Linked DNA regions of Homo sapiens: region 1 is linked to region 2. Evidence: fine-mapped expression QTL. Tissue or cell type: whole blood. Region 2 holds a variant in brackets; the other region holds the start of a gene. All regions are shown on one strand. Distances are between the middles of the regions.

Region 1 (15,645 bases), 30 kb before region 2:
ATACTACCAGGCATTGTGGGGCTGGGAGATTGAGGAGCTATTGTTTAATGGGTATAGACTTGCAGTTTGGGATAATGAAAAAGTTCTGGAGATGAATGGTGGTGATCATTGCCCAGCAATGTGACTGTACTGAATGTCATTATTGACTTAAAATGGCTAAAATGATAAATTTTATGTTATTTATATTTTACCACACACACACACACACACACACACACACACACACACACACACACACAACTGAGAGGACCTAGTTTTAAATATAGGAAGTTTTCATTTAAGTTGACTCACCTTTAAGATATACAGGCAATAGTAGAATTTCATCACTGAGATATTTAATAAATTTCAAATATTCTCTATCTGAAAAAAGTCACTGAGTTGTTAACTTGTAGTTACTAATTGATGTAAAGAATTAGATATAAAATAAATTACTCTTTTTTTTAAAAAAATAGAGTTATTGGCTAGTATGGTGGCTTGCGCCCATCATCTCAGCACTTTGGGAGGCTGAGGCGGGCTGATCACCTGAGGTCAGGAGTTCGAGACCAGCCTGGCCAACATGGCAAAACCCCGTCTCTACTAAAAATACAAAAAATTAGCTGGGTGTGGTTGTGGGCGCCTGTAGTCCCAGCTACTCGGGAGGTTGAGGCAGGAGAATTGCTTGAACTCGGGAGGCGAAGGTTGCAGTGAGCTGAAGTCATGCCACTGCACTCCAGCCTGGGCAACAGAGTAAGATTGTCTCAAAAAAAAAAAAAAAAGAGATTTTTTGGGGGTCGTCTTTAGAAGAAGGCCCAATAGGGAGCAAAACTCATTGATAAAAACAGGAAGAGACAGTGGCCAGCGTAGGATATAGGAGAACCATAAAAACTGTACAAATTTAACTTGTCTCCAGCACTTTCAGAAGCCCAGATAGAACATTTGAGGATTTCTCCTAGTCTTTCAAAAATGACTCAGTGGATTTCAGCGTGTATAGGCAGTGTTTGATCATAGATGAATTCATTATTTCCTCCCAGCCCTCCAAAATACAAGGCTAGAGCAACAATGGATGTTCTATAATGATTTAGTTTCTAAAGCTGCCTTTGAGTACATTCTGATTCAACTCTCCTGGTGTTTCCTTTCATATACAAAGGTAGCACTGGTTGTGTATTATTTAACTTCGTCTTTTTCTATGAAGTCTTCGAAGAACTCATCCTCAGAATTAAAACAGCAAGCAGCAAAAAGGAAACTTTAGTTACAGCCGAAACCCACTTTGACTTGAGAATAAAATTAGGATACTTCTGTAAAGGACTTGGATTTCTGTTCTTATTAGGTCACAGCAAAAATGGTATTTTAAAAGGCTACTAGGAGTAGATGAATGATCTCAATGAGAAGGAAAAGCTGACAGTATATCAGAGAGAACTAGAATATAGCAGGTTTGCCATTTGGCATGGAGAGAAATCGAGAATGTGGACTTGAGCCTTGTTGACTTGAGCCATGGCTCTTCCACCTAAGTGACTTTAGGTACATTGTTTTCTATATCTGAGTAGCAGGGATAACAGCTCTACCTATTAGGAATACCTCATTGGTGATAGTCATCTTACTTTGTGGTTGTTATAAGGATTTATTGAGAAAAATTCATATACAGTGTTTCACACAGTAACTGGCACATAGTAACAAAGTTTAAATTTTGATCAGCATACTCTGATTTAAAAAGCACAAGTATGTATACTCTATTTTTAAAGATTTCCTTTAAATTTTTAAAAATTAGGAGCTTGAAAAGCTGAACTTTAGGTATTTCAGACAAGTCCATTTTAGCACAATACCTTATCTCCTGATTAATTTATTCAACAAATACTCATAGATCTCCTGTATGTAAGACGCTATTCTAGATGTTGACGGTACAGCATTGAGAAAGTGGACAAACACTCCATGCCCTTATTCACGAGGTTTCCATTCTAACTAGGAAAGGAAATAAATAAATGAGTTTTTTAGTATATTAGAAGGCAATAATGCAATGGCCCTATGGAGCAAGCTAAAGGAACTGGGGATAGGAGTGTTGGATTGGAATAGTTGCAAATCTACAGAGTGCCCGGGAACGTGACATACATGCAAAGATAAGGAGTAAGCAGTGCAGGGAATTAAGAGAGCTTTCCCAACTGCTGCAAAGATTCTGAGGTGCCAGTGTGTCTTGTGTGTTCCAGAAACAGCAGGAGGCCAGTGTTGCCAAAGTCAAATGGGCCAGAGTAAGAGGTGTACAGGAGGAGGTCAGAGAGGCAACAAGAGACTTGTTTATGTCTGACCTCAAAGACCTCTGTAAGGACTTTGTCTTTGACTCTAAGTGATCATGTAAGGACTTTGACTGTAAGTGATCATGGAGGACATGTGAGGGGCTTGGGGCTGAGAAGAGACAAGCTTAAAAGGACTGCTTTGGCTGCTGTACTGAGACTAGATTGCAGGAGGGCAGGGAATAAAGCAGGTTGATGAAGTAGGAGGCGGTTGGAATAATCCAGGCAAAAGATAAAGAGGCTTGGACCACAATGATAGTGGAAGTGGTGAGAAGTGGCCAAATTCTGGCTAGAATGTGAAGGTAGAGCCAATAGGACTTGGTGATGTTTGGGGGAGTCAGAAAAAGAGGCATAAAGGAAAATCTGAGGTTTGGGACCTGAGATTCTGGAAAGATAGGAAAACTTCTGCAGTGGATTTCAGAGGGAAAGTAGGAGTTCATTTTGGGACATGTCAAGTTTGATAGTATTATAGAAATGTTGAGAAGGGCCAGACCCATGGCTCACGCCTGCAATCCCAGCACTTTGGGAGGCCAAGGTGGGAGGACTGCTTGAGCCCGGGAGTGTAAGACAAGACTGGGCAACAGTGAGACTTCATCTCTATTTAAAAAAATAAGAATAAAAAAGAAATGTTAAGAAGCCAACTGAACATTTAAGTAGGGAATTTAACAAGTTGATGTGGCCTAAAAATGTAAATTTGTGAGTTTTCAGCATAAAAAATGGTATCCAAAGGCATGACGGTGAATGATTATATTTGGGGAAGTCTTGGTCCATCTGGAGTATGACAGTTCCAAGATAATGAAATGCACCTAGTCTAGGCTGCAAGTGTTGCTCTTGCATACTCTAATTACAGAAGGAATCCTTGTCACATAGAACATCATTTTATTTATCCCAAACATTTGAAAGACATTATACCTTTTGCTTTGAAATTCATTCATATGTTTATCTGGTCTTGTGCTGTGTGTGGTCTGATCACAGTTTTCTTTAGGCGGTTCAGCTGCTGAAGCCAGAGGGTGTGCTGGTTTATAGCACGTGCACTATAACACTGGCCGAAAATGAAGAACAGGTTGCCTGGGCCCTGACAAAATTTCCTTGCCTTCAGCTTCAGCCCCAGGTAGGAGTAATTTCATTTTTCTCTGTGTAATAAGATAAATCACAGAAACTGAAGCACTGTGGTAATCAGGGTGTTAACGAAGAGATAAGTAAAACTTCCAAAGTGAACACTGTAATAAACAAGAATGCTTATCTAATTAAATCCACTTTAGACTGCCCATAATTTGCATGTCCTGACAAAGTTTTTTCTCATCTTTGTTCCTGCCATTGTGTTAAAATGGCACAGAGCTTGGGAGTGTTTTTGTTATGTGTTTATTCCCCTTGTAGCTATTCATGTTACTCGGCACCTTTTTTCTAAAAAGATTTTTTTCTCCTTCCCAGTCCTGTATTTTTCTGACATGGAAAATGTTGAGCATTTTCTCTCATGTCACATCAAAGCTCAAATGAGCTTTAATAACTGTGGGATATCAGAAGACCAGCTGAAAGGGAAAAAAGTATTTCTGGATTATTGCTTATTATATAAAATGTATAATATTTAAAAAGCTTTGCTATACTTTCTTTTACCTAACACAACTCTTTATGTTATGGTCTTTATTAGAAATGTATTTTTGATTCAATTTTTAGTCCAGGATATTTGAGATTAAGTTTAAATCTGTAATAATGCTCGCATACATTCAGATACATTGAGCATCTAACTTTAGTACCTTTCTATACAGAAATTAGGTAATGGGAATACATAAATAAAGACAATTCAGAGATGGTTTCTAGTCTCGTAAATTAAGATAATTACATTGTAGATGAAAGGAAGACTTCGGAATTCATTTGGAAATATACACACACTCAAAATATATACCTAAAAGGGATGGGAAGTTTTCCCCTGACCTCCATGGGATAATAAACGATCTGTTTTCTTAAGTATATGTCTGAAAACCTATCTTCATTAACATGCAGATGATTGTCTGTGATGGTGACTTAGGATTATAGATCTTCTTCAGTAGTTTGCAAGTATCATTCAATGCCTTATGATTCCTCTAAACTAATTGATACAGCCTTAAATTATGTTTCCTTTCTTATGTTTGTTTTTCTAGAAACTTTTCTCGCCCAACTGGTATGGGTCAGAGAGAGGTACCTTAGATGCCCAAAGACCACCTTTCAGTTTTGGAAACTGTTAAATAAAGCTGAATTTTTTCTGTTGCTTTCTTTTTTCTTTTTTCTTTTTTCTTTTTCTTTTTCTTCTTCCCCTCCCCGTCCCCACTCCCTTCCTTCTCTTTTCTTTTCTTTTCTTTCATTTTTTGTTTTTTGAGATGGAGTGTCACTCTGTCGCTCAGGCTGGATTGCCCAGGCACAATCTTGGCTCTCTGCAACCTCTGTCTCCCGGGCAATTCTCATGCCTCAGCCTCCCAAGTAACTGGGATTACAGGCATGCACCACCACACCTGGCTAATTTTTGTATTTTTGGTAGAGACAGGGTGTCACCTTGTTGGCCAGGCTGGTCTTGAACTCCTGACCTCAGGTAATCAGCCCGCCTCGGCCTCCCTAAGTGCTGGGATTATAGGTGTGAGCCACTGTGCCTGGCCTTTGCTGCTTTATTGATAATAATGTTCCATTTACTGAGTCCCTGCTATATGCCAGGTGTGATACCACCTTCGTTACTTAAGCCTTGTTTAATAGATGAGGAAATGTGGTTAGTTAACATTACCTAAAGTCACACAGCTAAAATGTGGTAGAGCTGCAATTTGAGTCCACTTGTTTCCAACTAGGAAGCTCAGGCCTTTGATAATGTCACAGTGTTTGATAAGCATGTAATAATAGGTATTTGTTCATCAGGTGACGCATAGTATTGCTTTCCTACTTTACTGTCTGGAAAGCAGCACGTATGTTCCACCAAAATGAAAGGCATTTACTCATTTTTCTATTTTTGGAAGATGTAGTCGTTACAGCCCAATTTGTCTTTTAACTTAAATTGTAGCAGTCATACTTGCTAATTACAGGATGTTCATCCATATTGATCCACTTTCTCCAAACAGGAACCGCAGATTGGAGGAGAAGGAATGAGGGGAGCTGGGCTCTCATGTGAACAGTTGAAACAGCTGCAGCGATTTGATCCATCGGCTGTGCCATTACCGGACACTGACATGGACTCTCTTAGAGAGGCCAGAAGAGAAGACATGTTGCGTCTGGCTAATAAGGACTCTATAGGTTTTTTTATTGCAAAATTTGTAAAATGCAAAAGCACATAGGAGAGGGATGGATGCTCAGAAATGAAAATTCCAAACATTTGCTGTCTGTGGTTTTTTTTTTTTTAACCAAAGTGTTGTCAGGCCAACTGAATGATGATGTGGTTGCTATGGAAACAGAAAAGGCTGCCAGCTGTTTTACCAGGGATCCAGAGACATAGAGGAAGTAGGGGGTGGTATGAGATTATATTTTCTGTTTTTAAAAGATTTTTTTTTTTTATGTATTTAGTAGAGTATAAAGAAAAGCAGATGCCTATAGATGTCTGGAGCATATTTTCATTTGTGATCTAATGTTTTAATTTGTAAAGTGTACAAGTCATTTTTAATGTTAAAAATTAGTGAATCTAACAAAAGGAATAAATTAGCAATATTTGATGTGGTTATGAAAAGTTGTTTTTGTTTCTAGGTTCCTAGTTTCTTAAGGATTCAGGGCATGGGAAGTAAAACATTGACTATGTGCCAATAATGGAGGTAAGTATTTTACCTGACTCTCTGTCTGCTTATTTAGTAAGTCAACCCCCTTTCAAATGAAGTCTGGACCTCCTCTGAATGATAGTGTGAAGTGATAGTCTAAAGACTATCGTAGTCTAAATGGTAGTCTATGTTCAATGTTTTTCATAATTTTAAACGAAAAAGTAAAGTTAGTATTTTCTTTACTTTGTAGATTTAGAAAATGAGATTATTCTACAATTTGGATAACTTATCATGTATTTGAAACATATCAGTTATTAGAAAATGCTTGGTGAGAAAGAAAAAACCAGCTCTGGCAGCTGGGAAGTGGCCTGACCTGACCCTTATAGCTGGGCCTTGGTGTTCTCCTGTTGAACGTAAGCAGTTTCACCTATCCCCAACATCAGACAAGGCAGCCGTACCTATCATAGATCCAGACAAAAAAAGACCACAATCAAGTCTGAATTCAGACAAAAAGCAGATCATCCTTCGAATTGCAAAAATCAAGCATCCCACTGTAGTGGCCAAAATAAGTGACTGCTTTTCAATTTAATTTTACTTTTTAAAGACAAGGTCTTGCTCTGCCACCCAGGCTGGAGTGCAGTGGCATGATTTCATAGCTCACTACAACCTCAAACTCCTGGGCTAAAGCAATCTTCCTGCCTCAGTCTCCCATGTAGCTAGGACAACACAGTTGTGTGCAACCATGCTTGGCTAATTTTTTTTTTTTTTTTTTTTTAAAGAGATGGGATCTTGCTTTGTTACCCAAGCTGGTCTTGAACTCCTGGCCTGAAGCAGTCCCGCTGCCTTGGCCTTCTAAAGCACTGGGATTACATATGTTAGCCATTGCACCCAGCCAGCTTTTAAAAAAAACATTACAGCCTTAGGATTTTGCCTTCCTATTGGCTTTTTAGATCAATCAGAATACTTACTTCCCAGCCATAGTTTTAAGGCTGTCTCATGGTGTTAAATCCATCATACTGTTTTGTTAACTTTCATTCAAATCACCCAAAAGTTATTAGGCCTTGGGCTTAAGAAATGGACAATTGGTTAATAGTTTGATTTCCGCCCGCCCCCCCGCCCCGCCCTCCACAGGTTTTCTTTAGGAATTTCTCATAACTATTTATTGTATCCATAAGGATTGCAAGGTCTCTTGGATCAGGTAAGACCTTTAGATTGCCTCTTCTTTAAAGGAGGCTTTCTTGAATACCTTTCCCTGAGGTTGGATAGGCACTGCTCCCCTTCTCTGTGCCCCTGGCTCCCACATCTAATGTTCTCCTGGCACTTACGACACTCTCATTCAAATTTTCTAGCCATGCACCTTAAGCCCCAGCCCCACACCTGGGAAACATCCTCCAGGCAGAGACCCTGTCCTGCCGTTTCTCTGTCACAGCTTCAGAGCAAACAGTCAATAGATGATTATTGTTTGAGAGAAAAATTATTTCAAGCAAACATGTGTCTCTCTTACATCCCTCATTCTGCCTTATATCCAGTAGCTGTCATTTGACTAAAGAGAAACACTTTTCCTGTGGGACTTATCTTTTTAGGGCTCAGCATACCTCTTTAAACTTTAAATGTCTTTTAAGAAACTCTACAAAAATCATTTTCTGTAATGCTTGCTGCACATCCTTATTTGCTAAGCTGGGATGAAAATGGCAGAGAATCAGCCTAGCAACAAACTTTTACTGGTGTAAATGTTTGATTAATACCAACAAATATCAAAATACAACCAATGCCAGTAAATAGAAGAAAAGTATTTACATATTGGAAACAGGACAAAGAATACTATTCAGAATTTTTCCTTGAACAGAGCTAATTTTCAGTGGGTTTCTTCCTTTCAAAAACTTAAGCAAACTGGAAAATCACATAAACTTATGGGACATAGCAGTATAAGAAAAAAATGCAATAAGGTGAAAAAATCAGGGAAATGTGAGGGAAAATTAATATATATTTTAACATTTAATATTAACATTTCTATGAAACAGAAGAAGTACTTAAGTTCAACAGTGAGTACATTTACTTTAAAACCCTGTGTCATGTTTTAAATAATGAAGCAAAGTACAAATAGTTAAAAGTACAGCGCAGCAGAAATTAAACTCTTGATCCAGAACTCATAACTGACCCAGATTATTCTGCTAGAGCTCACGTTGAATAAAATATTTTATCTACGTGGAGGTATCTTTTTTTTTAATCAGACATAATAGGAAGATTACTAAAGGAACATAAAGTATTTAGCATTGCCCCAAGAAAGATGCCCTGCAGCTGGGAAGTGTTGAATATTTAATATAGTCTCAACTACATGAATCATTTCTAACATGGCAATTAATACTACTACTAATAAACAGTGCAGAAGCCAGCTCTTTATTTGTTTTATATGAATTACTTTAAACCAGGTTTGTTAGACAGTTCAGTGTAGCTGACAGTGAATGTTTAACAGGAATGCATAGCAGACCATGTTAAAAATGTGGCATTGTCCCAAAGTACAACATGACTAAGACATCCTACATTTAGCAGCACCTTTTTGTAACAGTAACTTAAATGAGCAGTAGAGAAAGAGCATAGGAAAGACTGAAATGGATATGACCAAAAAAAAAAAAAAAAAAAACTATTAAATACATTTCCAGCATTTTCTAGGTTGACTACAAAAATGGCTCTACAACTGAGTAGGTTAAGGTTAAGCCTTTGTTGTGTGAAAAGACTGTAACTTTACATTCCGCAGGTCAGTAAATATCCCATTGCCCTTGAGATTATTTCCTCATTTACAGATTTACTACACAGTTTACACATATGTCCACTATACAGTTTTTCACATATAGCGGCTCTTATGTCAAATCCTTCAAGCTAGTTCTTTGAGGAATATTCTGATTTGCACTAATATGTTCTACAGTAAAGTGCAAGCTAAGAATCTAGATACAAAATAAAAAAGATGGAAACTCTCACCACTACTTTTTGAAAGGGATTAATGATAGCAGCAAGTAAGATAAATACTAGCTATGTTTCAAGAATTTAAATATTCTAAAATCATTAATTGGGATGAAATAATAAAGGATTGAACTAATAATTGTGAATCTCTTACCATGACAAAAGTTTTATCAGAAATATTTTATAAATTCAATTTTAATTAGAATATGGTTTCCTACCAATGTAAGAATTGTCAAGTTTATTATGACTACTGATTTTATACTCAGTAAATAAATTTATGTAAACAGTGTAGGGCTAATTAACGAACTGAGGGAAATTTTTTCATATATAAGCTGATAAAACATTATATATGTAACTAATTTTTATTTTCTTTTTTTAAACACCAGGTTGTCACCAGGCTGGAGTGCATTGGTACAGTCACGGTTCACTGCAGCCTCCACCTCCTGGGCTCAAGGGATCCTCCTATCTCAGCCTCCCAAGTAGCTGGGTCTACAGGTATACTCTACCACCCCAGCTTAATCATTTTTAATATTGCGTTTTCTTGGGGGTAAGGGAAATAAGGAGTTAAATGTAAAACAGTTTTACTTATAAAAGGCTAAGAATATTTGGTAAGAACTTGGAATAATCAAGGAAGCAAAACAAAGTAGATTTTATAATTTTGCTGGATAGTTTTTTTTGTTTTTTGTTTTTTTTTCTTTTTTGGAGATGGAGTCTCACTCTGTCACCCAGGCTGGAGTACAGTGGTGTGATCTTGGCTTACTGCAGGCTCCACCTCCTGGGTTCAAGCAATTCTCCTGCCTCAGCCTCCCAAGTAGCTGGGATTACAGGTGTGCACCACCACACCTGGCTAATTTTTTATCTTTTTAGTAGAGACGGGGTTTCGCCACGTTGGCCAGGCTGGTCTTGAACTCCTGACCTCAGGTGATCCACCCTCCTCAGCCTCCCAAATTGCTGGGATTACAGGCATGAGCCACTGCGCCCGGCTGATTTATTTTGTTAAATAAGTTAATGTGCAGATCTGAAGTTAGGTAATTATACACAGGCATTTTCCTGGGACAAACTTCAAGTGCCAGGTACTTGCACTCTTAATACTGTCTTACCATCCAGTTATAACTGGACAAAATATACACTTGAGACACGGAAAAGGTCTTAGCCTTAAACATGATGACATTGTAAGCTTCTTACAGCAGTGTAATTGAGGCATGGAGATAATGTCTTCAAGGTTCCCCTTCTGTGTACATGTCTTATGTAGGATAATATTCTTAACATTTTATTCACTTCAAGTCACCCCATTTTGCCCTGATTTCTTCTGAAGAACAGAAACTTTGGTTATAAGAAGCACTTCTGGGTTCTGACAGACAGTGAACCTGCTGGAGTCGGTGGTGGGGAGGAATGGTAGGTAACTGGGAGGTAAACAAACAACAGGAACAATAGGCAAGGTTAGAAATTGAAGTGGGAGAAGTTATAAAAATTTATTTTCCCACGAAATAATTCCACAAGCTGTGTAAACATTTCTTACTAAAACAAATACTCTAACACACAAAGATTGTACATTTCCAGTGAAACACTCACAGTAAAATTGCCTGTATTTTCACTCTCTAGGAGCAAAAACAAGGAGGCAGCAGATGAATGCTTTCCTAGTTACCTTTGGCAGCAAGCTTACTCACATTCCCTGACTGCTCAATGGGTTGTTAAAGCAACATATAGCACAATTAATTAAATACAGAGCGAGGTGGGCAGAATGCTCGATATCAGTCTCTAGTTTCTTCGTTAGTCTTCAGCATTCCAATTCATCTCAACCATTCAGTCACTCGGTGCACACTTTCTTACATACGGACACACACACGTGCATATAGCGAGTTCCGGCTCGTAGACTCCAGTGCAGTGACTAGAACAGACACTAGCTACTAAGAATGTGTCACAATCAGTGTGAACTGTATGGAGTAGAACAACCTCTGGAGTTTTATATTTACCATAATTTATGGTGGAAATTACAAACTTACTTACAAGGATGGTATAACATTCAGAATTCAAACCTTTTCAAGTCAAGCAATCACACATATTTACAGTATGTACACACTTTCTACTAGAATGAGGATAGGTGTCTAGACAATGTTATTACAAATTTCCTGAATGTGGGCATTTCTAGTCCCTGTAATTCATAAAGCAAATCTGCTGACTTGGCATTAAGACTCTAAAATAGTGTGATCAAACTGATATATATATATATTATATATATAATAAGAAGGTGTTTGTTTGCAGAAATAACATTTACAAACTGTCTATACAGTACACAGTACTAGTACATAGAAAATAGATTCTAACTTTATGATCCCCTTTGTGTAAGGCAAGACTGAATCTGTCCCCAAATTTAGTCAGCCAGAGGTACAAGCAAGAAACAGTGGTCCATGAATGAATATGCAAATCAGATGCCTGCGTATTAACGTATTAAAAATCTGGAGAAACAAGAAATTCCACTTTTTATCTGTGCTGATTCTGGCTTGTTGGATACATCAACTACATTTCTTAAAACACTAACATCACCTGGGTGGCAACAGATTTTGTTCAAGTGGCAGCTACCCAAAACAGTTTTTGAAGAGTCCAGTATGCAACCGGAGGACTGCAGCCATACCAGGCCAATTTATGTAGCACTTACAAAAGAAAAAGTATCTCAATACTCTATCCATGCTATTGCTATTCAAGCAACAGCAATAATACAAAATATTACAAGACAGATCACATATGATTGCAGTGTAGACCCCAAAGACTTTGTTTTGGGGATGCTGTTAGTTATACAAGACTTCAAAAAAAAAAAAAAAAAAACACAAACGGGCAAAACTCATTGGCGGATGTAAACATCCCTGTTCCACTCCCCAGCCTCATTCCGTTTTTTTGATATCACTTCTCCATCCTTTTCACAGTAGCGATCCTTGGATTTATGACGGCTGCGCTGCTTGTTGCACTCGTTGTGGTCCTGCTCTCGATCCACGTCCCGGGAACGGTGCCGGGACTCCCTGTGTCTGTGGTCACTGCTCCCGTGGGTCTCGTCTCTGTGGTTGTGGTCACGGTGTGAGGCATAGTGGTCCACGTGGTCATGGGAATAATCTTCCTTTGGCTCTACGTAGGCAGAGTCTCGACTCTCCTGGGTTTCCGAGTCAAATGTCTCTTGCCTGGAGAGGCCGCGACTTGTCCCACTGCGATGGTTGTGGTGTGGGGCTGAGGAGGAAGAGCGGTGCTGGGATTTCTTGACTGGTTCCACACTAGGTTCTTCTTCAGCTTGGGAAGCAGAACGGATAGGAGCGGAGCGATCAGTCCTCTGATCACCTTGAGAACCCTGGCAGCGAAAGGAGCACACCAGGCGTTAACCAAGGTCAGTGTGTAAAGAACATGTCCCAGAGCAAGTGCATTCAAGCAGAGTCCTTTTTAAGCATCCGAAAAGCTGAAATGAAGTCTAACCTAGCTTCATCCCTTTGGTAACATCCAGTGGCATTTATAAGGCTTTATACTATACTATATTAAATTGGACTTTTGTAAGTGCCTAGAACAGTGCCCATGGTAACTTTTTCCTTTAAAAAAAAAAAAGCAGCAGCAGGGAAAATGTTCTTTTATTTATTCTCCTGTGGCTCAAATACAGATGCAGGTCCCTGAGATTTTTCTATACAGCGGTGTAAACTTAACTACCTCTGCTTGACTGTATGTGAGAATATTAAAAATAGCAAATGCTTACCTGATACAGTGATACAGTATGGGACAGGCACTGTTCTGTAGACCCTTTGTATATAATAACTCATTAATACAACAGCCCTATAAGATCATCTCTTGAGATTATTAATTCCAGCAGCCTCTTGGACAGGTTGCCATTATTATTCCTGAGGTAAGAACAGTTAAGAAATTTGCCCCAGGTTATCCACCCCACAAGTGGTAAGAGGTGCAGCCAGGATTTGAATCTAGGTGATCCACTTCCACAGTCTATGCTACTGTTTAGAAAGTTTCGGTAGTCTGTGTATGTTCCCAATATATTCTGTTGATGGTGCTTTTCTTACAGGTACATACACAGCTCATGCTGGACTTGCTTTGAGTTAATATACTAGAACAAGCCCCAAGCAGGCTACTGGGCTTGGATCCTAGAGGTGTCACCATAGGCAACCTTTTTTCTATGAAGATTGTATATATAGATATATATAAAAACTCCCCTTACCTGTGAATTAGAGGCTAGGGTGGGGCTAAGAGGCAGACTTGAAGTGGCTAATGTACGGCTAAGGAGAGGGTTGGGGAGGCTACTGCTGGGAGGATGGGTGGCCTTCCAGTAGGCCTCCAGATAGTCGGCAAGGTGCTCACAGGCATCCTCAAGCTGGTTCTCATCCAAGATCACATCGAACAGCTCCTGCAGAGGCAGACATTCCAGACCACATTGATGCCAGCCCAGTTTTCACCCCCTTCCCACCTCCATAAGAGGAGGAAGGGGCTCATGAGCTGCACCCCTTTGTACTTGCTCCTGCTTCTATAAGTGCTGCTACTATCTCCCTTTTTATTTAGTTAGGAAGTGTCTGACTACCTCAAATCATTGTTGAGGGCACTGAATGCTTAACTAATAAATAATGGCCAGAAAGGTAACAGTTGTTAAGGACATGGCAACCCAGAAAAGTTGTCTATCAATCAGCAATGAAAAAGGCATAGATACTATGGTAGAAAAGAGATGTATATATATTTGAACAGAATAGAATAGAATAGGAAGAAGCCTGTTCTTGACATAAAGATTGTGATATCTTTTTTCTTTTTCTTTTTTTGAGACAGAGTCTTACTCTGTTACCCAGGCTGGAGTGCAGTGGCCTGATCTTGGTTCAGTGCAACCTTGGCCTCCCAGGTTCAAGTGATTTTCCTGCCTCAGCTTCTCAAGTAGCTGGGGTTACAGGTGCCTACCACCAAGCCCTGCTAATTTTTGTATTTTTAGTAGAGATGGGGTTTTGCCATGTTGGCCAGGCTGGTGTTGAACTCCTGGCCTCAAGTGATTCACCCGCCTCGGCCTCCCAAAGTGCTGGGATTACAGGTATGAGCCACCATGCCCGGCCCAAGATTATGAAATCTGAATTTAGAAATTAATAAGGTAAGATTAGGATGTGAAATTTTGACATTGTCCAAACTTCACAGTAGTTCAGTAGAGAAGAAAATAATGCCACTTTTCAAAAGATTTTTTAGTGTTTATTATAAATTTTAACATATATTAAGCAATCAAATATTTATAGACCCTGAAATGGCTATGCTTAAAAAGAAAAAAAAGCCTGGTGCAGTGGCTCATGCCTGTAATCCCAGCACTTTGGGAGGCCAAGGTGGATGGATCACTTGAGGTCGGGAGTTTGAGACCAGCCTGGGCAACATGGCAAAGCCCCGTCTCTACTAAGAATACAAAAATTAGCAGGGCATGGTGGCGTTTGCCTGTAGTCCTAGCTACTTGGAGGGCCGAGGTGGGAGGATTACTTGAGCCCGGGAGGCAGAGGTTGCAATAGTGAGCTGAGACACCACCACTGCACTCCTGCCTGGGCAACAAAGCAAGACCCTGCCTCCAAAACTAAACCTAGGAAAGCTCTAATACCTCAAGGCATTGCATGTAAAGCATAGACGACAAGTGAGAATCTAGGTAACTTATTACTTAGAAATTGATTTGAGACCATGTGAAAATAAATGTCTCAGACAGTTATTAAGAGCAGACAACTTGATCCCTATGATCAGAAATGAATAATATACCAACTCCAAATAGACTCATCATACAAGCCAAATTTTCGGAACCAGGATCTTGTGTTGGATATTAACAAAGTGAAGTTACTGCAGGATGTACGGAAGCTTTTGGTAAGCTATGATCATCGTTTGGATTACTTGTGCTCAAAACACATGATCATGGAAGGAGGGAGGACAGTTTACTTTGGAATGAATACCACTGTAAGTGATGAGGATTCTCTTCCCTGACAGGTGTTTGACTGTTTTTTTCAAAATATAATGCCAGTTCTGGCCAGGCATGGCAGCTCATGCTTGTAATCCTAGCACTTTGGAAGACCAAGGCAGGAGGATCACTTCAGGCCAGGAGTTCTAGACCAGCCTGGGCAACATAGCAAGACCCCGTCTCTACAGGGGGAAAAAAAAAAGTTAGCCGATCATGGTGGCATGCACCTATAGTCTCAGCTGCTTGGAAGGCTGAAGCAATAGGATCACTTGAGCCCGGGAGTTCAGGGCTGCAGTGAGCTAAGACCATACCACTGCACTCCCAACATGGGCAACAGAGCAAGACCTTGTCCCCCAAAAAAAAAAAAAAAAAAAAAAAAAAAAAAGGTCTGATCTCTGTAACTGGATTATGCTGTATATAGAGATAACTTACTGGAGGACACTGAGCCAGTTTATCAGCTGCTACCATCTGGACGTTGAGGTGTTTAGCTTGAGATTTCCCTCGAGATTTTATTAACCTTTGTAAAACCTGTAAAAGATAATGAGTTTTTAACAGAGTAATAACTACATCCAGGTAAAGTACAAGGTACATTATTGACTCCTTTCTCTGGGGCCTTTTTATATACAGCACAAGGGGCTTATAATAGATGGAGCTATAAGATTATCTGCAAAATTAACATGTTAACATAAATCACAGTTGCAAGCTTTAAGCACTCACATTTTTTCTATGCTAGCAGCTCTCAAACATTTTATCTCACAACCTCTTTAAAGAAGCTAAAATGGAAAACTAT
Region 2 (15,645 bases):
CACTGCATTTATCTGGTTAAAAATACAGAAATATACACTAGCCCTGTATCTTCCAGGTCCCCTGTAATAACCTACTCTTAAACTCTGAGGTTTCCATTTTGGACTCTAGTCATGTCTTTGATGCTTCAGGAGCTGGCTTAACATTCAATGATGGCACCCATTAATTATTTGATTCAAGACTGCCTTTCAATAGACTTTAAGCCCCACAAAGCCAAGGCCCTTGTCTATTTTTGCTCCTCACAATGCCTGGCACATAGAATATACTCAATAAATACTTACTGAGGCAAGTTGAATAGTGACCGGGGGAAGAGGAGGAGAAAGAAAGGATTAAGTCCAAGCCCATTGGCGTGACACACTAGATATGACCCTTGGATTTGTTACCAGTCACTCCTTGCCCATGTCCTTTAAGATGTGGGTGTGAGTTGCCTTACACATAATGCTGTGTCATACCTCAAAGCCTTCACACACTATATACCATCTGCTGAACATACCCTTCTCTTCCCTGTAATCCATTTGGTCAAACGTTAGGCACCATTTAAAAATTCTTCCAGGTGTGGATGTCCTGAAGTTGGTGTTAATTACGCCTCCCTTTATGCTACCTGCACCTTGTGCATGCATATAACCAAGTTGCCCTTTTACTTATATGCAGTGTTACTGCTACAGGTTTCAATTTATGGTTTCCATGAGAGCTGTTCATAGGCAGAGACTGGCTTCACCATCTCCGCATTTCTCTAGCAGAGAGTATGCAGCAGACGTTCATTCAAAATTCATCTGGCCACTGCTCATGTTGAGTACTGCTCCAGGCACTGAGAATACAACAGTTCACAAAACATTCTCAAACCCTGCCCTCATGGAGTTTATCGTCTAATTATGGGAGAATGACAATAAACAAAAATAGTACTGGAAATACATAAAAGAGCACTAGAAAACAGAGGGAAAGGAGAGACACAGAACAAATGTGTGCATGTGTATGTGTGCATACATGTACACACGTATACCAAGGAGAATATCTGAGGGAAAAGTGTTCCTAGCAGAAGGAACTGCAAAGTGCCAAAGCCCTGAGGTGATTGTGTAATCTGTCTGGAACACTCAAAGAACAGCAAGGGAGTAAGTACGGCAGGGTGAGAATGAGCGAGGGAAGAGCAGCAAGAGAAAATCTAGGTAAGGACGTGTGGAAGAATAGACCATAGGAGGTCATGTAGGCCACTGTAGGACTTTGGTTTCCATTCAGAGGAAAAAAAGAAGTCACTGGATGGTTTTGAGTAAAGGAGTGGTGGGCACTAGCTCACATCTTAACAGGGTCATGCAGCAGCTAACCTGAGCACAGGCTTTAAGGGAACAACCACAGAAGCAAGGAGACAAGGTGGGAGGCTGTTGCACCAATCCAGGGAAGAGATGAAGATGTCTCAGACCAAAATGGTGGCAGAGGATGTGTGAGAAGGGCTTCGATTCTGAATATATTTTGAAGATAAAGACAACAGCATTTGCATGTGAAATATAAGAGAGAAAGAACAGTCAAGGAAAATGATCTGGGCTGAAGGGTCTCGGGACTGAAAGACGAAGAAGCTATTAATTGAGATAGGGAAGACCATGGGAGGAGTAAGTTTTGGGGGAGGTTACATTTGAAAAGTCCATTAGACATCTTAGTAGTGATAATGAATAGGCAATTGTATACATGGGTCTAGAATTTAGAGGAAAGACTGGCAAAGGAATGGAATTTAAAAATCTGATGCTGAATGAAATCACTAAAGAAATGTAGGTAAAAGACATCATAGAGCTTAGCCCTGGGCTGTCCAAGATTTCCAGTTGATGAGGAAGTATCAGCAAAGGAGACAAAGGAGCAGTCAGTGTGATAGAAGGAAAACCAGAAAAGTGTGGTTCCAGAAACCAAGCAAAGTATTTCAAAGAGGATGGAATAATCCACCATGTCAACTACTGCTCATGGTCAAGTAAGATTAGGGCTGAAAATTTATCCCTGGATTTAGCAATGTGAAGGTCATGGGTGATCTTGACATGACTAGTTTAGCTGAGTGGTGTGGGTGAAAACATAACTGGGGTAGGCTGAAGAAAGTGGAAGGAAAGCCAGTACACTCAATTCTTTCAAGGAATCTTCCTGTAAAGAAAAGAAAAAAAAATGAGACACCTAGAGCAATATGAGGTCAATGTGATAGGAATTAACATTTTTACATGGTGATGGAGTTTCCATTAGAACAGGAAATACTCATGAGGAGAGAGCAAAGGATGATTACGGCTCTGTATGGATACTTCTAGCAGAGAGGGGATGGGGAATGAGATCTAGTGCCCACATGGTGGGTTGGCCCTTGCTGGGAACATAGTCATTGGAGATAAAGCAGAGCATGCAGGCAAACATGCAACTCCACAGGCGGGGTTGTAGAAATGCCTGGATGTTCTCTGTTTGCCTCTATTTTCTCAATGACACGGAAGCAAGTTCACTGGGGGAGCGTGAGATGAGAAGGGGTTATCAGAGGATTAAGGAGGGGGAGATGGCACAGAAGTCTTTTAGAAGAGTGGAAAAGTGAATGGAAGAGGGATATTTAGTGCGATGCCTGGGCAGCAATAGAGGGCCAGTTGACCATGAATTGAGGGTGAGACTGGCCAGTGGTGTCCTGCCCAAGGTCAGCTTATGGATGTAGGTACAGGAACTAGACATCAGGGGTTAAAGATGTACCAAGCAAATATGATAAATATTGATTGAATCAGATTAAATTGAGTGAAACTTGTTTCCTGTCATCATATAGACATCAGAGGGCCATTTTCTCTTGGAATCACACGCATGTCCCACCAGCGTTTTGCCATCTTTAAGACAAAATCCACAAAACCCAGTATGCTGAAATACTCACCGCCCTTCAAATCTGTGTTTTAAAAAATCAAACAGCGCTTTTTGCATCATATCTGTGACCTGCAATTGAGCAAGCAATAAATTAAGATATGACCAAAAAAAATTACTAACGATGATAAAACAATTTTACTTCTCTTAGGAATGCTTGAAAACCTGAGCTTTGCATCTGGAAAGAGTGGCAATATGAGGTTGCCGCATTTTTCTGCTTCTGAGTTCTGATGCAATGACAATTAAACTGAACTTATCATGATGTTTTAGTGACAAATAACATTGCAAGTGGTTTCAGTCGGTCTCCATTTGACACTATTTCCTGGACTGAGTACACTGCAGCTAGCAGAAATCTTCAAAGCAACAGCCAGGTAAACAAAACAGAAAAAGGACGAAGCAGTGTATACCAGTTTGCAGAACAACAGGCTTTGCTGCTGTGAGCTCTCTAAGCTCTAAAGTTGGCTCCTTAAGCTGTAAAATTCAGAGAGAGGGTCGGGAGTAGGAGGCAGCATCACAAAGAAGTTCAGCATGCAAGTTAAGCTTCCTGTGGAAGGCTGCTACCCACCTCGTAGCCCTTCAGAGAAGGGCCCACTAGGACCACTGGTCGCATGGAAGGTACCACATCATACGGAGGAGTGTGCTCTGTCTGCAGAGAGAGGAGAGGCTTTTAGACGTTTCACAGGCAGGTAGAACATAAATATTTTGTGTATAAGGTACTCTTTCTGAACTCCATAATATGAGGCACTGGCTTTCCAGACATTTTATTTTCCCCACTTGCCTCTTTTCTACATAAACCCAGTCAAAGATTGGTGGGTTCATTTTCCTGAAGTTTCAAGTTACTGTTGTCTACAGTCTTCTTGCTCATCTCAAGAAATGCTACAGACCTATTCGTTCCTAAAGCAAGAGATGCTGCTTTTGAACAAAAACTAGTTGACAGAACAAAGAGAAACATGCCTCATGCAAGATAGGTGCTTTAGGCTTGACTAGAAGTTAATATTGCTTTTCGGCTGCATTTGAATTTTCTAAAGAGTTGTAGTGATTAGACCTAACATGGTTAATTACAGAGGAAAGAAAGATTGCATTACCTTTGCATCTTAGGTTTTTGTCTTACCTGTGTAAAACCTCATTTCAAAATATTATAACTCTCACTACCAATACTTTTTACCTAATCTCAAAATATTGTAACTCTCACTACTGTCAAAATTCTATATTATTGTGAGAGTTTAAATGAACATGCATGCTTATTTTAGTAAACAGTAATCATGATCCCTGCTCACAGCTTAGTGATTAATGCTATTGAATTTTTTGGTTTCTATACCTTGGTACTTCAAAGGTAAGGTTTATGTGTCTTCGAGGGAAGGTGATTAATGTATAATAATATATTCAACCATGCTATTGTGGTCTCAAAAGGTTCATTATCAATGTGCATATCTAATATGATTCTCAAAAGTAGTTTTCTGTCAGATAACTAATGACATCTTTCTGCAGTAAATTATTTCTTTTTAATAAGAGGGGAGGAGCTAAATTTTGTAGCAATTTCTAAAACTGTCAACACTTTTCAGGTTAATTGCTTCAAATAAAATGGTAAAATAACATCTTTCCAAAAATTAGGTAACAGCAAATTGGTTTATATTAAAATTGGCTCTTTTGATAGCATAAAATGCTAAATTGACCCAAAAATGACTTTTTAAAAAAATGCATAAGAGTGATATGGCCTTAGACACTGCGATAAGCAAATCATTGCTATATGAATCTTTCTGGCTAAGGAGTGTCAAAAAATATAACTTGAGAATCACACACACCAACAGAAAAATGTTCTGTAAATGATTTTAAGAATTCAGTACACTGATGTGCAGATATGAATGTCATTTTTGCATCTGCCCGTCACTCAAGAACATTTTATTGTTGCTTAAAATTGCCCATTACAAACTTTTCTGGCTTCATTTGAATTCACATTGCCTCAGGGGAGAATTAAAAAGCATTTCAAATTCAAAAGCTTCCATCTGAGATTTTACCCGTAGTCACAGACGATATAATCAGAGGGAAGAAAAATATTACCATGACTGTGCTGTCAAATTTCACTGCCTAAAATTTCACCTAGCATTCAGAATTAATTTTAATTGACACAATCAAGGTAGAATACAGTTTTGAACAGAAAAAAAAAAAACAAGACAAACATAATACAGTGACAGCACACGTACCACACAAGCACCACTCTAAAAGCAACCTAAAACATAGAAAACGATCTTCTCATTGAATCTCAGGCTGTTGTTTTGTTTTTGAATTCTACATTGATGTTAACCACATTATCAATAACATAAGAAGAATGAATACCAGTGCCGAAGGCATCATAAGCATATTTCTTAAACTATTTCATTTATACCACCTGGGATCATACTGAAAACGTTTAGAAGCCAAGTCCTGATAACTATGCGGTGTAAGAACACCTTTTCCACCGTTGAAATTATGAATGTAAATTTCCTGCATTTTAGTAACAGCTACCAAGAAATTTTATCTCAAGACTTTAATTCTGAAGTGGCCCAGTGTTTGATAGGTCTTTGGTTCCTTCGATCTGTAACTGCCAACTAGCAAAGGGTCACCCGTTGCTGGTAATCAATCAGCTTCTTAATCAATAGGGTAGCTACAGAAATTACCTTATTTGATGGAATATTGGTGCTTTGTGCCCTATGAAGAATGACGCCATCATTTTTATCTACTCTTCCCTGTTAACCCCATTTAGCTTGATTTTTTTTTTCTTTTTTTTGAGACAGAGTTATCTAGCTCTGTTGCCCAGGCCGGAGTGCAGTGGCATGGTCTCGGCTCACTGCAATCTCCGCCTTCCGGGTTTAAGCAATTCTTCTGCCACAGCCTCCCAAGTAGCTGGGATTACAGGTGCCTGCCACCATGCCAGGCTAATTTTTTGTATTTTTAGCAGAGATGAGGTTTCACCATGTTGGCCAGGCTGGTCTCAAAACTCCTGACCACAGGTGATGCACCTGCCTCAGCCTCCTAAAGGGCTGGGATTACAGGTGTGAGCCATTGCGCCCTGCCTGCTCAAATTATTTAGTGAAAAAATTGTGATAAAAGTTTTTAAAGTTTTAGAATTTAAAGGTAAGCAAACTTCACAAACCTATCTTGACAAACAGGGTTTTAGCTCACATTCCTGCTCCGTCAAGGCCCAAATGTCTTAGCGATGCCGATTTTCTAAGCTTCTGAATGATAGACACTGTTAGTCACTTGGCTGCAAGCTTTAGCTGTAACAAGAAGATCGGACCCCAGAAATGGGCCCACTGTTGTGGGTGAACATCAAGCTGAGGCTATGTTAACACAAAAATCCAAGTGTTGCAATTTTTGCCCAGAGTGCTGAAGTTTTCCCTTATTAAAATAATCATAATTGATTCAAAAAAAGCCAACTTTACAGTTCTGTATCTGACACCTCATTAATGACTTGAGTTCCTCCACAAACCAAAATACATGTTTGCAGAGGAAAAGTGTTCATTATGTGGAGAGTTTGGGGGCAGAGGATAGACAGATTTGACATCACATCTGCGTGTGAGAATATATCCATGGTTTTGCCAGACTTGGCGACATTAGTATGATTCTAAAAGACAGCATGGTAGCTGTGGAAACTGATGGGTAAAAGAGGGGAAAAAAAGGGAAATTTGGGGGGAGGTTAGTGGTCCTTAAAAAATAATGCTTTAAAGCTACAAAATGGGTGAGGAAAAGGCTTTGTCTGAAGTAAGGAGAGCTCAGGAATACCCTATAGTTTCCATTTAGGGGACAAGGAGCCTCGCTGTGTAGCATCTTGGATGGCCAATGGCAAAGGCTCTACGCATGACCACTGGCTGCACTGTCCAAAGGGTGAGATGGTAAAATCTGACTGATGGAGAAGGCAAGAACATCGGGAGAATATTTATATATGACAATAGGAAAAACTCACAGTAAACCGCCAAAACAAGCCTGCAGTTTTCCACTGGTCTTGTTCATCTGCAGATTTTGCACCTAGTGGATTAGAAGTTTAAATACTGACTAAATTAAAACTTGAATACTTTTTTTTTTAGTACAAGCTATGTATCTGGATATCATAAGTCAGAATTTAATAACTGCTTTAATATGTTTGATCATAAGTTAAATTTCTGGATAAAAGAAAGAGATAGAATAAGCATGCACAATTTAGGTGCATTATGTGGAGCTGTCAGTGTTTGACATCCCTGAATGTTGAAACAAATTCCCTTGGTGGTAGATATTATTCCATCAAAAAGGATAAGTACTGTAATGGTGTTTTAACAGGTCACTCCCTGAATTTAGTTGGTTTGAAATGCATGAACTCAATTAGCTGTTGATAGGTTCTTTGCTTGGGACAGAAATGATTGTATTTAATACAACTGTGGGAATTAATGCTAATGATGCCAGTGGCAGGATAAACACAGCTTATGTCAATGTAAACTTACCGATTTCTGCTTCTGCTTAGCTACAGCAGCATGGAAAAGAAACAAATAACAGAGCATGCACGTTATTGGCTTATCAAAGGACGCAGACAGTCAACAGGACTAGAAATGTGACGCAGTGCAGTTGAGCAGGTGGACAATGGGAGCTTGGAAGTTAATGTTACCTTCTTAAAGAAGGGCATTCTTTTCTCTTTGGAGTGGGGTGACGTTACACTGTTTGCACTGGGTTTAGGGGAGCGGTGGTTTGCTGGAATATCATTTTCTTCTGCATCTAAGCCAGTAGCATCTATGTCTATAGCTATATACAGACAATTCAAAAATCAGGTGGACAGGAGAGGAAAAATAGGTTATAAAGAAAATAAAATGAAAGCAAATAAAACTAACCATAGTAAAAAAAACTATCATGAGTGCTCAACACAGTACGCAAGAAAATTAAATTTAAAGGTAAGGCACATTAAGAATGCAAGGTAATCAAATCTAATGAAACTGAAAGATACACTTATAATCTGTTTGCTTGAATGAATCAGTTTCATGCTAGACGTCTTGAATATTTTCAGAGAAACATTTTAAATCTGTAGTTTCAAATATAATGTTGATTTTCTCTGTATCAACTGTATAAAAGTGCAGTACAGAACATTTGACTTCATTACAATATCTTAAACCAGCTTTGAGATAACAAACAACTACTTTGAAAACCTTTATTATAGGTGAATGCAAAAGTAATTGCGGTTTTTGCACTGTTGGAATTTGCCATTTGATATTGG[A/T]ATACATTCTTAAATAAATGTGGTTATGTTATATATCATTTTAATGCGCATTTCTCGCTTTATGCGTTTTTGCTAATGACTTATTACTTGCTGTTTATGTTTATTTTAGACTATGGAAATGATGTCAGACAAAAAGCGAATTTGAGTGACTTTCTTATTCGAGTTCAAAATGGGTCGTAAAGCAGTGGAGACAACTTGCAATATCAACAATGCATTTGGCCCAGGAACTGCTAATGAACGTACAGTGCGGTGGTGGTTCACGAAGCTTTGCAAAGGAGACGAGGGACTTGAAGATGAGGAGCATAGTGGCTGACCATTGGAAGTTGACAGCGACTACTCAAGAACAATAATCAAAGCTGATTCTCTTACAACTACACGAGAAGTTGCTGAAGAATTCAACATTGACCATTCTATGGTCTTTCTACATTTGAAGCAAATCGGAAAGGTGAAAAAACTCAATAAGTAGGTGCCTCATGAGCCAAGCAAAAATAAATTGTTGTTTGGAAGCATCTTCTCTTATTCTGTGCAACAACAATGAACCATTTCTCAGTCGGATTGTGACGTGGGACGAAAATTGGATTTTATATGACAACCACTGACAACCAGCTCAGCTGTTGGACTGAGAAGCTCCAAAGCCAAACTTGCACCAAAAAAAAAAAAAAAAAAAAGGTTATGGTCACTGTTTGGTGGGCTGCTGCCGGTGTGATCCACTATAGCTTTCTGAATCCCAGCGAAAACATCACATCTGAGAAGTATGCTCAGCAGATCGATGAGATGCAGCGAAAACTGCAACACCTGCAGCCGGCGTCGGTCAACAAAAAGGGCCCAGTTCTTCTCCGTGACAACGCCTGGCTGCACATCACACAACCGGCGCTTCAAAAGTTGAATGAATTGGGCTACGAAGTTTTGCCTCATCCATCATATTCACATGACCTCTTGCCAACCAACTACCATTTCTTCAAGCATCTTGACAACTTTTTGCAGAGAAAATTCTTCCACAACCAGCAGGATGCAGAAAGTGCTTTTCAAGAGTTTGCCGAATCCCAAAGCATGGAGTTTTATGCTACAGGAATAAACACACTTATTTCTCCTTGGCAAAAATGTGTTGATTGTAGTGTTTCCTATTTTGATTAATAAAGATGTATTTAGGCCTAGTTATCATTTAAAATCCATGGTCCGAAACCGCAATTACATTTGCACCAACAATACAATGTGCAAAAAAAGATTTTTCTTTTTGCAGATTTTGTGTAAAAATAAGGACAGTGTGAAAAGTTTCCCTAAAATTGCAACAGACATTTGAGAAAAAGAGAGAATGGAAAATTCTCAATCCAGTCAATGCAAAGGAGTCATACACAAGGCCAATGATTCAGGGAGGGCTCCAGGAAGGACAGGATTAAGATGATTTTAGGCTGATGAAGACTAATGGGAAAACACTGGGTCCCAAGATATCCGAGTGAAATCTGTCTAATAAAATGACATTGGAAGACTTCTGGTGACTTATGCAAAGCCACTGGGTTTAACAAAAGAGGCAGAGTGGAAGGGCACGAGGACCCAAGAGGATATGCCACTGGTTTCCTCATCTGTAAAATGAAAGGTTTAGCTTTGTTGCTTGACATGATTTACTTTTCCCATTGTTCCACCTGAAAATATAGTACTTAAAAAGTGTTACAAGAAAAAAAGATGCATAATCTCACTTCAAATTTTACAAAATCCTTCCACATGCAATTGAAATAGCTACAGAATTTTATCAACTGCAGAGTCAGAGATGGAAATAAAGATCAACTTCAAGGCTCTTATTTTTAAGATTAAAAAACTCAAAATTTAAGGGACTTGTTCTTGGCAAAAACTTGGCAGTCAGGATTCAGACCTACTCCTCCTGCGTAAGTGAGTCTATAACCCTCCGTATACCACAGTGCCCACCTAAATGAGTCTGTAACCGTCCCTATACCACACTGCCCATCCAGGCGAAGTCCCTTCTCAATCTGGGTGCCCTCTTTCAGTTCCCTTCACATCCTCAATGGGGTCATGTCCTTGATGTCAGGAGTCAGGATGACATCATAGAGCTGGACTAGCTAGAAAATTATTCTACGGTTAAGAATCAGTCAAGGAGAAGAAAAAAAATTTACTCACTGCAGGAAAGCATCATATTATACATGTTAGCTCTCTAACAAAAACCACAGTACATTTAGATTGAAGGAAGGAACAAATTACCAGTTTGAAATAACAGACAACTTGGTGTTACAATACAGCTACCATTCCCTGGGATACACAAGCTGAACTGCTCACAGCAGCTTCTTCTAACCTTTTCAAAGGATGGAAGATCATCTGACAGGCATTACATTATTTTTCAGTTTTGAAGTTGTTATGAATATTAAATGAAGCAGCCTTTTGAAAACTAGGCTCTCTTATTTAATTATTCCTTTTCATTTGGTGAGGTAGGAAACCTGTGATGGAGTGAATACCTGCCATTGTTTGTACACTATTACAAATAATCAGCTATTGCTTGCATAATGCAGGAGGTATGATTTTCTATCAAAAAAAAGGTAATAATGGAATTAATTCAGTCCTAATTACGTAGACCTAATATAGTAAGTATGTCTTCCTCTTTGCCCCATCTATGCATACTGATGTGCTAAAAGGTTTAACATGTGGTATGTAGAGAAAACATAAAATGTGCCTAGGGCTTTATCCAGTGCTGACTTTTATACCATCCTATAGCTAATCCTTTGCTCATATAGGAAAGTTTCCTTATGGGGCTTATTGAATGGCATAAGCCAGGCAAGAGTCTCAGAAAACTCTTCAGAAATGTTTTTCCTTGAATCTCAACTCAAGCAGCATGTTGTCAGCGCTTTCCTGGATATGAAGGACAAAATCTGCGTCAGGAATTCATTATTCCTACAATACATGTTAACCAAAATCAAGAGTTTCCTTGCTGGTGGTAAATTCCCACAGGTTTTATCTTTCTCATCTTTTATTGGGCTCATAAAGACCACATTCAAGGGATAGTACCCTTTGAGGGCTCTCCTAAAATGAAGATAACCAGTTGGATGTCAGAATTTACAGGACCCTTGGACAGTCAAGTTCATGAGTTGAATTTTGTGATTTGCCCATTGAATCTAGCCTGCTGTGATCATCAGTTGTATTTTTGTTTTTTAAAATAAGAGTGAGGCTGGGCATGGTGGCTCATGCCTGTAATCCCAGCAGTTTGGGAAGCCATGGTGGGTGGATCACTTGAGGTCAGGAATTCGAGGCCAACCTGGCCAACATGGTAAAATCCTGTCTCTACTAACAATACAAAGATTAGCCAGGTGTGGTGGCCGGTGCCTGTAATCCCAGCTACTTGGGACGCTGAGGTGGGAGAATCACTTGAACCTGGGAGATGGAGGCTTCAGTGAGCTGAGATTGTGCCACTGCACTCCAGCCTGGGTGACAGTGAGACTCCATCTCAAAAAAAAACAAAGAAAGAGTGGAAACGTATACATCTTTGGCTGCAACGTTGCCCAGGTGTTTGGCTTTCCACACACATAGCCTGAGTCAGGTTTGAAATTTACCTGTATCTGGACATGAGGGCTGGATATCCCAAATTGAGAACTTTCTATAATGTACTAGTTCTGACATTTGGTTAACTCAGGTCTAAAAACATCTGAGTTCATTTTGAAATACGTAGAATTCTGAAACATGTGGTCACTTTCAAAACATATTAAAGAAACTTACCAAGGCAGTTAAGAAGCATTTTCAAATCTGTTCAGCTACATGTATTTTATTAGACTCAGATGGTTCTCCTTTTAATGAGAAATGTTACTCTTTTTAAATTTCATACTTATATTTCCATGCTTTAGCAAACATTAGTATTTACTTGGAAAGAACTGCTTTCATATATTTGAAAAGTCTCATTCTTCCTCACTAGCATGCATATATTATTATTAGTGATAGAGAGCCTTGGGAACATTTTTTCTGTTTGTTTGTTTATTTATTTATTTGAGACAGGGTCTCCCTCTGTGGCCCAGGCTGGAGTGCAGTGACATAATCATGGCTCAGTGCAGCCTCAACCTCCTGGACTCGAGTGAACCTCCTACCTCAGCCTCCCAAGTAGCTGGGACTATAGGTGCACACCACCATACCCAGCTAATTTTTTAGAAACGGGGTCTCACTTACATTGTCCAGGCTGGTCTTGAACTCCTGGGCTCAAGTGATCCTCCTGCCTCAGCCTCCCAAAGTGCTGGGATTACAGGCGTGACCATGGCACCGAGAACAATTTTTTGAAATTTAAGTTTTGGTGTTAAAGGTTTGGGTCAAGTTAAGCAGAGCTTGGGCTTGACACATATGTACACACGTGTGTGTGGGTGCGATGTATGTATTCTGCAACTGGCTATGACACCAATGCCCAGATGTCAAGTGGGAAATTTTCCAAGTTCTTGACAGCATCCAAGCATATATACTTTAGGCAGATACTTATATTCTTTGGTCTGGCAATGAGTGAGGAGAATAATAGATGAGACCTTTGGAAACGATGAAAATGATCATTACAGACCCATCCACACTTGATAGTTGGAGCAGTTGTGCCTGGAGGTGGATTGGGAGAACTTCTCTTTCGAGCTTTCTGAAGTTTTCCTTTAAATCAGTTGAGCTATTGATATAAAAATTGTCTCAGAGTCCTAATATGCTTATTATACATTTTGTAGTTGGTTATAGCTCCAAGTGACTCAGTCACCAGAAAAGTCACTTGAAAGTTGGTGTATCTCTACAAAACCTTGGTGAACATTTAAATCACCTTTTTAAATATTACACTCTTCATGGAACTTTACTTTTAGTAATGTCAAACATCTGCCTACAAAATGGAATGTTATTTTACATGTATACTAACTTGTTCTTCAAAATGCAGCACCTCCTTTCACTATACAGACGGTCCTTGACATACACTGGTTCAACTTAAGATTGTGCAAGTTTATTACAAATTTTTCAGGACATAACCTTATCATAAGTCAAGGTCTGAACTTTACGATGGTTTGACGTCAGACTTTTTACTGGGTCTGTCCACGTGTTAAGTACATTTTGAGTTACCATATTTTCTATTTATGATGGGTTTAGTGAAGTGTAACTCTATCATAAGTTGGGGAGCATCTGTGTTGCCAAAACCACTGGAGGGCTACAATATGGCTGGAGGGAATGGAAGAATTTTTCTGGTATATAGAAAGAAGTGAGGCTGACATTTGCAGGCAGAACTGCTGCTTTATCGCAAGGTGACATAGTCTTTTTCCACTTTAAGAGCCTAGTAGCAGTCCCTAGAAATCACTGAAATCATCTTTGAGATATATAAGAGTGTAAGGTTTATATAGGAATCCCTGCAACTTCACACATTTGAGAAGGAACAGGATAGGCCTCCCTTCCTCTGTGGATTCAGGGGCTCCGTAATTATCAAGGGAAGGTATAAGTTTCACATAATACCTACAGGGCCTTTCATTTTCATTTCATGCATACTATTTTACTTAATTTTGAGCATCTTAGAATTGCTTGCTTCAAGTTATAAGTAGATAGTTTTTGAAATTAATTTGCTTCCTAAAGCAATTCATTTATTGTGCTCAGATTTTGCTCACTTGAAAGTCCTATATTCTGTGTAGAACTTGGAATTCTATATAAACAGAACAATGGTTTGAATTGCAAAAAAAGCCCATGATCAGTATCTTAGTTTGCCAATGGCTGGGCATGGTGGCTCATGCCTGTCATCCCAACAGTTTGGGAGGCTGAGGAGGAGGATCCCTTGAACCCAGGAGTTTCAAGAACAGCCTGGGCAACATAGTGAAACCCCTTCTCTTAAAAAAAAAAAATCCTATAGTTTTTGCTAAGAAGTCCTTGATTGGTCTCTAAAGGCCACCACCATTCAGGAATGAAGCTGATTATTAGTAATAGAGAAATCCTGTCCTTAAAGCACATCAGTCACTGTGTGACTAGTTCTTTGATTTCTGCATAGTTGTACAACTCTCTGTTTTTTATCTCTTCCCATTTCCAGCTTTCTAGAAATCACACACAGTATCATTTTGCTGAAACACCCTGGCAGTCAACCTTTACAGTCTTACTCTGATTCCCAATAACAATTCTCTTAGCAAACTAAGATACTGATCATGTGCTTTTTTTTGCAATTCAAATCATTAGTCTCCTGTCTATATAGAATTCCATGTTCTACACAGAATAGGAGAGTTCCCAGATTTAGCAAATATAAATGCAGTTAAATTTGAATTTAAAACAATGTTTTAGCATAAGTATGTTCCATACATTTTTAGTGTAAGTATGCCCCATGCAATATGTACTTAAACTAGTAAATTATTGTTTATCTGAAATTCAAATTTAAGTAGGTGTGCTTTATTTTATCCAGCAACCATTAGGATGAACCCACTGCTTTGGAAAGAAAACAGTAGTTACTGTTCCCACACACATTTTCATCTTTTTTCTATACTTCTTGTCTGTGTCTTCCACAGAACTTTTCTGGTAGAGCCCACAACAGGCCAATCCTCTATCTTCACTTTACCCTCTGTTCCTTACCTTTCTAAAGTTTTTATCCTTCTGTTTAATGTTAAGGTTATATCTCACATTGTGCTATGGTTGTTGGCAAGTATTCACCCATTTACTGCCCATGACAAGCACCATCGCAGGAACTAGGGATTAAAGGTTAATATGGCTGGGTGCAGTGGCTTACATCTGTAAACCCAGCACTTTGGGAGCCTAAGGCAGGTGGATCGCTTGAACTCAGGAGTTCGAGACCAGCCTGGGCAACATGGTGAAACTCCATCTCTACAAAAAATACAAAAATTAGCCGGGCATGGTGGTGTGCACCTGTAGTCCCAGCTACTTGGGAAGCGGAGGTGGGGGGATCACTTGAGCCCTGGAGGCAGAGGCGCAGTGAGCTGCGATCATGCCACTGCACTCCAGCGTGGGCAATAGAGTGAGACTCTGTCTCAAAAAAATAAATAAATAAATAAATAAATACATTAATCACTTTGATCATCTACAGCAATGTAAACACTTTGACATACTTCTTTTTCCAGCCAGAAAAAAACATTTCCCCATATTGTTTGTAACTCCAAAAGGGCATGCTCACTTCTGATTCCTTTTAACATCTGTAGGGTTAACATAGTGATTCAGTGTATACGTAAATTCACAAAACTGGATAGAGCTGGGGAAAGCATGAAATGCAGTATGTATTATTCAGCATTTATCACCTACTTACCAGATGATGGAGGTGTTGATTTTCTGGAACTAGGTACTATGTCACCCAAACTGGATGATGAATTTCCTCCTGATTTACTGGAGTAAAGCAAAAATTTCTATTAAATCTGACACTTATTTCGCATCCTCAAACATTTATATTATTCAGTAAACATAATTCATTATGGTTTTATTCAACTTTAAATTTATCTTTCATTTAAGGAGGAAAACAATATTTCCCAGTGGAGATTCCTGGAGTACTTGAAATAGCCACATGATGGTCTCTGATTTCAAATTCAAGGTTTAATTTTAAAAGGACCTGAGAGAATGGAAGAGAACCAGTGTAATTTCTGCAGCCCCCAAGTTACTTGCCCAGATCACAGAC

What was found.
Region 1: it holds the start of CACNB2-AS1, and the variant in region 2 is fine-mapped to the expression of CACNB2-AS1 in whole blood (INTERVAL, PIP 0.93).

The regions. Positions count from the first base shown.
Region 1 is chr10:18,535,839-18,551,483 of GRCh38, reverse strand. It overlaps CACNB2-AS1 (CACNB2 antisense RNA 1), which reads left to right and starts at 12,208. Exons shown (of 3, transcript XR_007062076.1): 1 at 12,208-12,290. CACNB2 (calcium voltage-gated channel auxiliary subunit beta 2) reads right to left here. Exons shown (of 14, transcript NM_201596.3): 12 at 15,288-15,383; 13 at 13,119-13,304; 14 at 7,927-12,254. The coding sequence ends at 11,760. It overlaps NSUN6 (NOP2/Sun RNA methyltransferase 6), which reads left to right. Exons shown (of 11, transcript NM_182543.5): 10 at 3,247-3,372; 11 at 5,339-5,923. The coding sequence ends at 5,551.
Region 2 is chr10:18,506,185-18,521,829 of GRCh38, reverse strand. CACNB2 (calcium voltage-gated channel auxiliary subunit beta 2) reads right to left here. Exons shown (of 14, transcript NM_201596.3): 6 at 15,283-15,359; 7 at 7,461-7,594; 8 at 3,414-3,494; 9 at 2,862-2,920. CACNB2-AS1 (CACNB2 antisense RNA 1) reads left to right here. Exons shown (of 3, transcript XR_007062076.1): 2 at 3,000-7,428; 3 at 8,170-9,214. Among named protein-coding and RNA genes, the nearest start is that of CACNB2-AS1, 25 kb to the left of the region's middle. The variant A/T (reference allele first, on the strand shown) is at 8,061.